2 separate regions of the Homo sapiens genome follow, and region 1 is linked to region 2. Evidence: fine-mapped expression QTL. A gene starts in region 2. The other region holds a variant in brackets. All regions are shown on one strand. Distances are from middle to middle. Region 1 overlaps PDE6D (phosphodiesterase 6D). Region 2 holds the start of PDE6D (phosphodiesterase 6D).

Evidence for each region. PIP is the estimated chance that this variant, and not a neighbour inherited with it, causes the effect. A credible set is the group of variants that fine-mapping cannot tell apart.
Region 1: its variant is the best candidate, but not a certain one, in a credible set for the expression of PDE6D in whole blood (TOPMed, PIP 0.56).

The regions. Positions count from the first base shown.
Region 1 is chr2:231,743,309-231,747,702 of GRCh38, forward strand. All of the region lies in intron 1 of PDE6D (phosphodiesterase 6D), which reads right to left. Among named protein-coding and RNA genes, the nearest start is that of MIR1244-1, 32 kb to the left of the region's middle. The variant T/C (reference allele first, on the strand shown) is at 1,850.
Region 2 is chr2:231,779,020-231,783,413 of GRCh38, forward strand. It overlaps PDE6D (phosphodiesterase 6D), which reads right to left and starts at 2,263. Exons shown (of 5, transcript NM_002601.4): 1 at 2,046-2,263. The coding sequence starts at 2,095. It also overlaps a transcript of COPS7B not described here. RefSeq lists enhancers at 1,430-1,509, 2,060-2,289 and silencers at 1,453-1,676, 1,800-1,849.

The sequences.
Region 1 (4,394 bases), 36 kb before region 2:
AGCTAATCAGGAGGCTGAGGCAGGAGAATCGCTTGAACAGAGGAGGCGGAGGTTGCAGTGAGCAGTGAGCCAAGATCATGTACTGCACTCCAGCCTGGCGACAGAGCAAGATTCCGTCTCAAAAAAAAAAAAAAAAAAAAAGAAAAGTCTCAAAATATAACAAAGGGTTATTCAGCAGAGTGCCTGCAATGTGATGAGGAGTCTATCTTTCTGTGCACTCAACCTGCTTGTGGGCATCCCTGCATGAATGTACTGTCGCTTTCAGATCACATTGGCTGTGTCATTCTCCCCTCAGGGTGTGCAATTCCTAACAAACTCTCCTTCTATGCTCAATACATCTCCAGACAGTGCCGTTCCTCTCCACCCGTGTGATCTGCCTTCCTCTGGTTCATATTTTCAAACTCCACTTTTTTTTTTTAAACAACTAAATTCAAAAGCAAGTTCACATACTTCCTTAGGTCATGTCTCACAATTATAATTACTATAAATATGCTCACACATCCCAGGGTCTCTATATGTTAAGAGAAAGCTTCCCAACGGCAGAAGGAAAACAACAGATACTACTGCTCTATCAATCCCCTCTGAGCTCAGATCTAAACTGTCCCAGGCAGCTAAGCCCAAGGTTTTCTGAAGACATAGTCCTCATTCGACCTTCTCTGAACAAGCTTTTCATTCTTTCACAGCCGATAGTGTCCTATGTACCCACTACGGCAACATGGACATCAGACTTTCTTAAATTAAACAATAAGACTAAACAAAACTAAAATGACTTCTACAGTTCCAGGCTCACAGGCAGATGAGGCATTCTAGCAAAACTAGAAAAGTCCCGGAGGGTCCCTGCACAAAGCTGCAGTTGGAGCAGACTGAACTTCCAGAAAAAGCACTACTGTGACTGGCAGAGGTCAGAAAAGCAAAGCCTGGGGCCAGGACTTACTCTTCAATCTATGTATTAAATGATAAAAAAGAAAGATGTTTTAAATTAGTCTTCTATCTGGCATTTAGTGAATAGTAAATTTAAGCTCCCCTTATTTCAAGGGAGAGAAGTAGCTAAAAATACATGGTTGATTTCCACAACATGAATGTCTTTTCTCTGTAAATAACCAGGTTAAGGACTTAATTGCTTTTCTTTTTTTTTTTTTTTTGGAGACAGAGTTTCGCTCTTGTTGCCCCGACTGGAGTGAATGGCACGATCTCGGCTCACCACAACCTCCGCCTCCCGGGTTCAAGTGATTCTCCTGCCTCAGCCTCCTGAGTATTTGGGATTACAGGCATGCGCCACCATGCCCGGCTAATTTTGTATTTTTAGTAGCGATGGGGTTTCTCCATGTTGGTCAGGCTGGTCTCGAACTCCCAACCTGAGGTGATCTGCCTGCCTCGGCCTCCCAAAATGCTGGGATTACAGGCGTTGAGCCACCGTGCCCGGCCCTAATTGCTTATCTTTTTGGGAATCACATAAAAATATATTCTATAAAATATATTTATATGTTTAGCCAGTTCAATATACATAGTTATTCCTGCATGTGCCCTAATCTGGAAAATTATCTACCAGTATCTATATCATGTGCATCATTTTATAATCCTTGCACATTTTAATCCTTAACAAGTTTTGTAAGATTTTATCCTCAATACAGCATTAGAGAAATACAAAGAGAGCTCCATCCAACGACGTTGGGATTGAGGCCATTGAAGGCCCCTCTAAGTTCTGTAATTTTAGGGGTGAAAAGGAAGCCCTTAGTTCATGGTAGAAATGCAGCAATTTGGGAACATCTTTATAAAATGGAAATCCATAATAGTCTATTAGTAAGGAGAAATAAAAGTTATTAAGGTAGATGTCTTAAAATAATAACAA[T/C]GAGAAAAGCTGGTCCTCAAAAGAGGAAACTTCAAGTTGACTTCTGAGGAGCCAAAACAAAAACAAAAACACACAAAAAAAACCGAGGAAACATTTGGCTAAAAATGCTAGAAATGAAAGACAAGCTTTGATGATTGGTCATCATCTGGCTAAAAACATATTTGTTTTAACAGCTTACTGCTAACCAGATTTTTTAGAGAAAAAGAGCCTGAGTTTTAAGACTCAAAGGTCAAGTCACTTCCAATCTTGAGAGGAGGATTAGGTGGACAGGCTTTAAAGGAGGGGCTGGAGTACTATTTATAAGTTCTACCCTCTGGGTCAGCCAGGTCTTTGTTCATTTAAAAGCTCCCTGGTGATTTATACGAAGGATGAGCACAAAGGAACATTCCTTTCCTATGGGAAGCCTCCTGCTTAGAGGAGATCGGGCTCTGGTACCCTCTAATTTGGAACCAGGCAAACATAAGGAAGCACTTTCGTATGTAAAATAAGAATATCTTAAAAGTAAGCTTCAGAACAAAACCAATAGTTTGCAAAGTATTAAGCGTTAGGAAAGGTAAAAAAGGAAGTAAATATTCCATAAATATTATGGAAGAATGGGTGACACTTGGCTCAACACAGGTTACGCAAATCCTCTTGTGTCTTACAGAATAGTTGTGACCTGGTGTGATTTAGGTGCAGTCTGGTGCTGGAGCTGGGGGCAGACTTGAGGTATAGAAGGCAGTGAAGGAGGTGGGTGGTAGAATGGGAAGGGAAGGATTGGGGATCAGAAGAGATCAGTTAGATGAACGGGGTACTAGGTAAATTTCCTTGAGAGATGTGAAAGTAGAAAACAGGATAATAAAATGATTTGAACCAAGCTTGTCCAACCCATGGCCTCTGGGCTGCATGTGGCCCAACACAAATTTGTAAACTTTCTTAAAACTTTTTTATTTATTTTTTAGTTCATCAGCTATCGTCAGTGTATTTTATTTTTTAATTTTTATTTTACTTTATTTTATTTTTGAGACGGAGTCCCAATCTGTTGTCCAGGCTGGAGTGCAGTGGTGCAATCTCGGCTCACTGCAACCTCCACGTCCCAGGTTCAAGTGATTCTCCTGCCTCAGCATCCTGAGTAGCTGGGATTACATGTGCCCGCCCCCATGTCCGGCTAATTTTTTGTATTTTTAGTACAGACGGGGTTTCACTATGTTGCCCAGGCTGGTCTCAAACCCCTGACCTCAAGCAATCCACCTGCCTCGGTCTCCCAAAGTGCTGGGATTACAGGCATGAGCCACAGTGCCTGGCCCGTTGGTGTATTTTACATGTGCTCCAAGATAATTCTTCTTCCAATGTGGCCCAGGGAAGCCAAAAGATTGGACACTCCTGTTAAAGTAGTTTGTAACAATCATCTATGAGTATTTTGGAATGAGTACACTGGTTCTGAGAGACTTGATTCGTTTTAAATGGAAATAGTCAACATCATTTTTTATATAATAAACAGATCCACACTACATGCCCGTACCTCACCGGCCAGTTGAAGGAGGAAGAAAGAGAAATCAGGGTAAGAGAACAGAGAGTGAGAAGGAATGGGGAAGACAAAAAGCAGAAAGAGAAAAGAAACACGGGGGACACACACAGGAGAGACACAGGGACGGAGTGAAGGGGAAAAAAAGACTGAGAAAAAACACAGAAAGGCCCACATACAACTCAGAACCAAGAGACAGAGCCAGGACAGAAGGCAACAAAAAGGAAGAGTCTCCGAAAATTTGGAGATAGATCCCATACAGTTTTCTTCCTACTTTAATACTGTATAGCTGTCTGGGTTAGTGAGTTTCACAAGACAGTTTGAAATTGATGAGAACAGGAGGAAGACTAAGTATTCCAAGTGTTAAGCTCCTCTGAAAATGTTAATTGGCTGGTTCATAGTTTCGTGTAATTTATCATCCAAACGATGATACTTTTTTTCTTTTGAGATGGAGTTTCGCTCTTTGTTGCCCAGGCTGGAGTGCAGTGGTGCGATCTCGGCTCACTGCAACCTCCGCCTCCCGGGTTCAAGCGATTCTCCTGTCTTAGCCTCCTGAGTAGCTGGGATTACAGGCATGCGCCACCACACCTGGCTAATTTTTGTATTTTTAGTAGAGACGGGGTTTCACCATGTTGGCCAGGCTGGTCTTGAACTCCTGACCTCAGGTGATCCGCCTGCCTCGTCCTCCCAGAGTGCTGGGATTACAGGCGTGAGCCACCACACCCGACCTATGATACTTTAAAGAATGAAAGAGTGTGCTAACTGAAGAGCACATTTAAATGAGCTGGTTCATAAAATGTGCTACAACAGTCCTTGGCATTAGTAAGCCATGTGTTAGCTATTATTATTATCAATGACAATTAATTCTTTATTGTCTCCCATCTAGCATTCTGACTGGTTTTCCCCGCTTCTATTCTTGCCTCCTTCTCCATTCTCTTCATAGAAGGAAAGGGTCTTTTAAAACTGTAAGTTAGATGTCAATCCCTGGCTTTCCTCTGCACTTAAAAAAATCGAGTTCTTTCCATGGTCTACAAGGCCCCT
Region 2 (4,394 bases):
ACTAAAACATTAATTTTACTTTTTCCTGAAGGTAGTAGCATATCTTAACATTCCTGCTTTTCTTTTCTCTCTTACTCCACAAATGCCCAGTAAAGGCTACCAGAGGATGAGCACGCCACTGCTCTCATGCTAACTTTTTGATGTGGCTGCTTCCCTTGTGCTTCAGGATTTAATCAGCTCAGGTCAAGCTTTTCCCAAAAGCCTGTTTCTGGATGCACTAACATCACTGAATCGGTTGATTCGCTTTTCCTTCCAGTGGGCTGACACAGATTCTGCTTTCTGAAACTCTTTTCCGTATTTGTCTCTTATCCTCTTTCTCAACAGGTTCAAGAGCTAAGACTGAAGGTGAGAAGCTCAAACTTTTCTGCTTTGTTCAAAAGCCATTAAAAAGGCCTTTCTTCTTTTCAGCAATACGGTATTTCCAATCAGATGAAAACGTTGCTTCTGAAATCTCTCAATTCTCCAGTTTCCGGTTTACTGTCTACAAAGCATGTTAAGTAGCAATATTATTACATTGTTAGATGTTAATAGTATAAATTATTTGAGGGAAAAATAAAATCCATGTCATAGCTTTTCCAGCACTTCAGTCATCCCTATATACCTATTTGATCCATTATGGAGAGAAACACAGAAAGGCACATGGAGCTATAAAAGAGGCTGCTACTAAACCAAAACATGAAAGTACTGAAAGTTTATCACAGATGGTAGTATGCAAAGGTGATACAGCCTTTAGTTTTTTTAAAAAGCATAGATCAATTTCCATTCGAAAAATCTCACTTGTACATCCAAAACTTCCTTTTTGCACTGTGGTCTAAAATGTATTACCAACTTGGTTTCTGATTATAGCAAAGCAATTAAATTTGCAAGCGTGACATGGACATTGTGAAAACGCAACAGAATACCAAGAAAACAGTGCTTTACTAAACCTCCAAGGGAGGAGCCCTGAAGTGGTGACTACCTTTTCACTGAGGGAGCAATTTAAGAACGTTCGTACTATAGATTACAGATAGGATGCATGAAGAGATTAAAGTTGGCAGGAGAATGGAAAATTTGAATATCCAAGTTTGCATTTTTTCATCTGCATCATATGGTGACAGACTAACACACTCCACGAAAACACAAAGCTTCCTTACGGAGAGGATGCAAAAGGGGCACCACAACAGGCCCGAGGCAATGATTTCTCTACCCCACTCTATCCTACCGTGGCCCCAGCGACATCACACCATTGCTGGACAGCTCCACCACAGCTAGGCATAACCGCACCGACAGGAGCGAGCAAAGACACCTCGGCTAGGAGTCCCAGCGCGAGGCACCCCACACCTAAGCCTATGGTCCTCATCTTGCTGGAAAGAAAACTGAGGCGCTGAGGGGGAAGCAGTGACCAATGCCTGAGAAGGCCAAGAGTGTTAAGACGAGGTCGATCTTGGACTTCTCTTTCCCCACCTCCCCCAACTACTCCAGTCCTGGAAGAAGCCACAAGTTTGGAAGAGAAGTTGTGGAAACCAGACGGGGGTGGGGTGCGGTGCGGTGCGGTGGGGGACCTGAGAGAGTTTTAAAAGCACTGGTATTTGTCCCACACAAGGTCGCCCGCTCCAAGTCACTGTTCCCCGCTCCCCGGGTAGGCTTATAGCCAAAGAGGCTTCTAGGCTTCGAGATCAGCCCACCGCGCCCCCTCAGCCCTTCTCCGCGGGCCGCAGCCCCATCCCGGCCTCTGGGTCCCGGCCGGGGATCGGAACCCAGCCGGCTTCTCCGACAGCGTTTCCGACGCCCGGCACCTCTCGCAGCCCCGTCCCCCAGGCTCCCCCGTCTCCACCCGCCACCCCCCGGCGCTCCCGTCAACGTCCCCTTCCTCCCTCAGGACGCCCCTTGGGGCGCCTCTCGCGCCGGGTCCCGCCGGGTGCTCGGCACGCTGTTCCTTTCCTCTCCCCTCCCGCGGCCCTTCTTCTGTGGGGCCCACCTGGCGCGGCCCCCGCCCCCGGCCAGTCTCCTCAGTGAGCGGCCGCCTCCCAAGTCCTCCCGGCCCCGCCCCGCTCCCGGACGGATACAGTTTGAAGCCCCTCAGGATCTCCCTGGCCCGCTCGTCCTTGGCTGACATGATGCGGCGGTCGCCGCCCGCGGCTTTCTCACTCTGGTCGGCGGAGCCTCGCAGACGGTGCCCAGGAGCCGAGGATGGAGCCGCAGCCCGGCTTGGAGACCTCGGGCTAGCAGCCGCAGCGGCCAGACCAGGACCGGCCTCTCTCTCCCCTCAGCTCCCGCTTCTGATCCCTTCTCCTTCCCCCTAGCCTCGCAGTGCCCTCCTGGAACCAATGGAAAGCCAGCCTTGGCGATTGGCATCTCAACCAGCCAGTAGGAGCGCGCAGCGGCTTCGCAGGGGGACTGTTAACGTCAATGGGAAGGGCCCTCCCCGGGAAGTCCCATAGGACACAATATTCATCTGGTGTTGTTGCCTAGAGTTTGTCCCAGCGGAGGGTTGGCTTCGGATCTGCAGAGGCTTTAGGGACCTGCTCCAGCCACTGAGCACACTAGCCGTCTGAGACGGCAGCTGAGTTGCACTGTGCGACGCGACAGAGACTACATTTCCCAGCATTCCAGCGGCGCACTCGGGGGACCACAGATCCCAGCGCACCACAAAGAGGCCCGGGGACTACAAATCCCAGCATCCCCTGCACTCGGTTCCTCTGTAACTTAGACTCCAGTGTGCCGCGCAGTGTGCGCAAATTCACAAACCCGCCCGCTGAGTTGGTCGTTTCGGAATCCCGAGACTTGAAACCCAACGGGAAGACCCTTCTCACCCTCAAAAGAAGATGACAGCCCGCAGAGAGTTAACTTCTGTTTACATGGAACTCAGACATCTGCAAATCATGGTAAGGCTGCAAACAACAAACAAAAACACTGATTAAACCGTGAAAGAGAACAAAATGACTTCTTCAAATCGTGCTTGTTTGTTGGTCTGAGGCGCCTTTTACATGTATTTCAGGGTTTTTTGCTGTATTCCTGGTTTGCACCGGGAGAGCTATGGATTGTATACTCAGAATATCAAAACATAAAGGGACTTTGCTAATCTATCCCCTGTTGTTACGTATGAGGAAATTGAGGCCCAGAGAGGCGAAGGGATTGGCCACAGATCACAGCAAGTTCGGGCAGAGTTAGAATTCAGCCCTAAGTCGGCTGACTTGCAGTCTGGACTCTTTGCACCACACTAAGGAGGTGATATTTTTAGCAGCATGGCAATGTGAATTATTCTCCTTGAACGGTTTTCCTATCCACTGTTGAAACACCCAGAATTAGGTAGCATTTATTTGGTGGATTTCTTGCGAGTGAGGGAGTGTGATATTTATTTATTTTCAGCCTAGGTAGGATTTGGTGTTTTGTTTTTTGCCACTCAAGGTGACATTTAATGTGATTTCAGGAAGTAGGTAAAATTACAGTGTGAGCCACGGTTTCCTTGGAAACCTCCTCTGTCCTTCTCTTGGCCTTCCTTCCTCTGCCTGTCCCCACTTTCACCCATCTGGGAACTCACCCAATTTTTTCTTCCATGTAATTCAACAAATATCTTTTCAGCCTGTTATTTGTCAGGCACTGAGTGGGTAAAAGGTGAAGGACATGGTCACTGCCACCAGGAAGATGAACATATATTTAGGGAAATAAGGAGACTCCACTGAGATTCAAGATGGAGTGTGATAAAATGGCATAAAGAAATGACATCAGAATGCTAAGGAGGCCCTGATGAAAAGGTTCATTGCAGCTGGCAAAACTTTAATGGACAAGGTGGCATTTGAACTTGAATTTTTTTTCCATGTTAAAAAAGTTTTTTTTTTGTTAATGAGGTGTAACATACAGTATGGGAACAATTTTCACATAGGTATACACCCCTGTCGCCACTACCCAAATCAAGATATAGAACATTTCTAGCACACTTAGTGCTCCCTCCCAATCAGTATTACATCCTTACATATTGAGATAATCACTCTTCTGACTGTATCACCATAGATCAGTTTTCTCTGTTCTTGAATTCCAGTTAAATATAATAATACAGTATGTACAGTATGTGTCTGGCTTTTTTACTTTATCAGTATTTTTGTGAAATTCATCCATGTTGTGTGTAGCCTTTTAATTGCTGAATAGTATTCTGTTGTATGTTTATACCACAATTTATCTTTTCCACTGTTGGCGGGCATTTGGGTTGTTATTTTTTGGACTATTATTAGCAAAGCCGTAGTGAGCATTCTTACATGTTTCTTTTTGTAGACACTTGCACACATTTCTAGGAGAGGAATTGCTAGTGTGTAGGGAGGGTATGCACATGATCAGTGATAGTAGACATTGCCAGTTTTTCAAAATGATTGTACCAATTTACGCCTTTGCCAGCAATATGAGAGAGTTCTAGGTGCCTC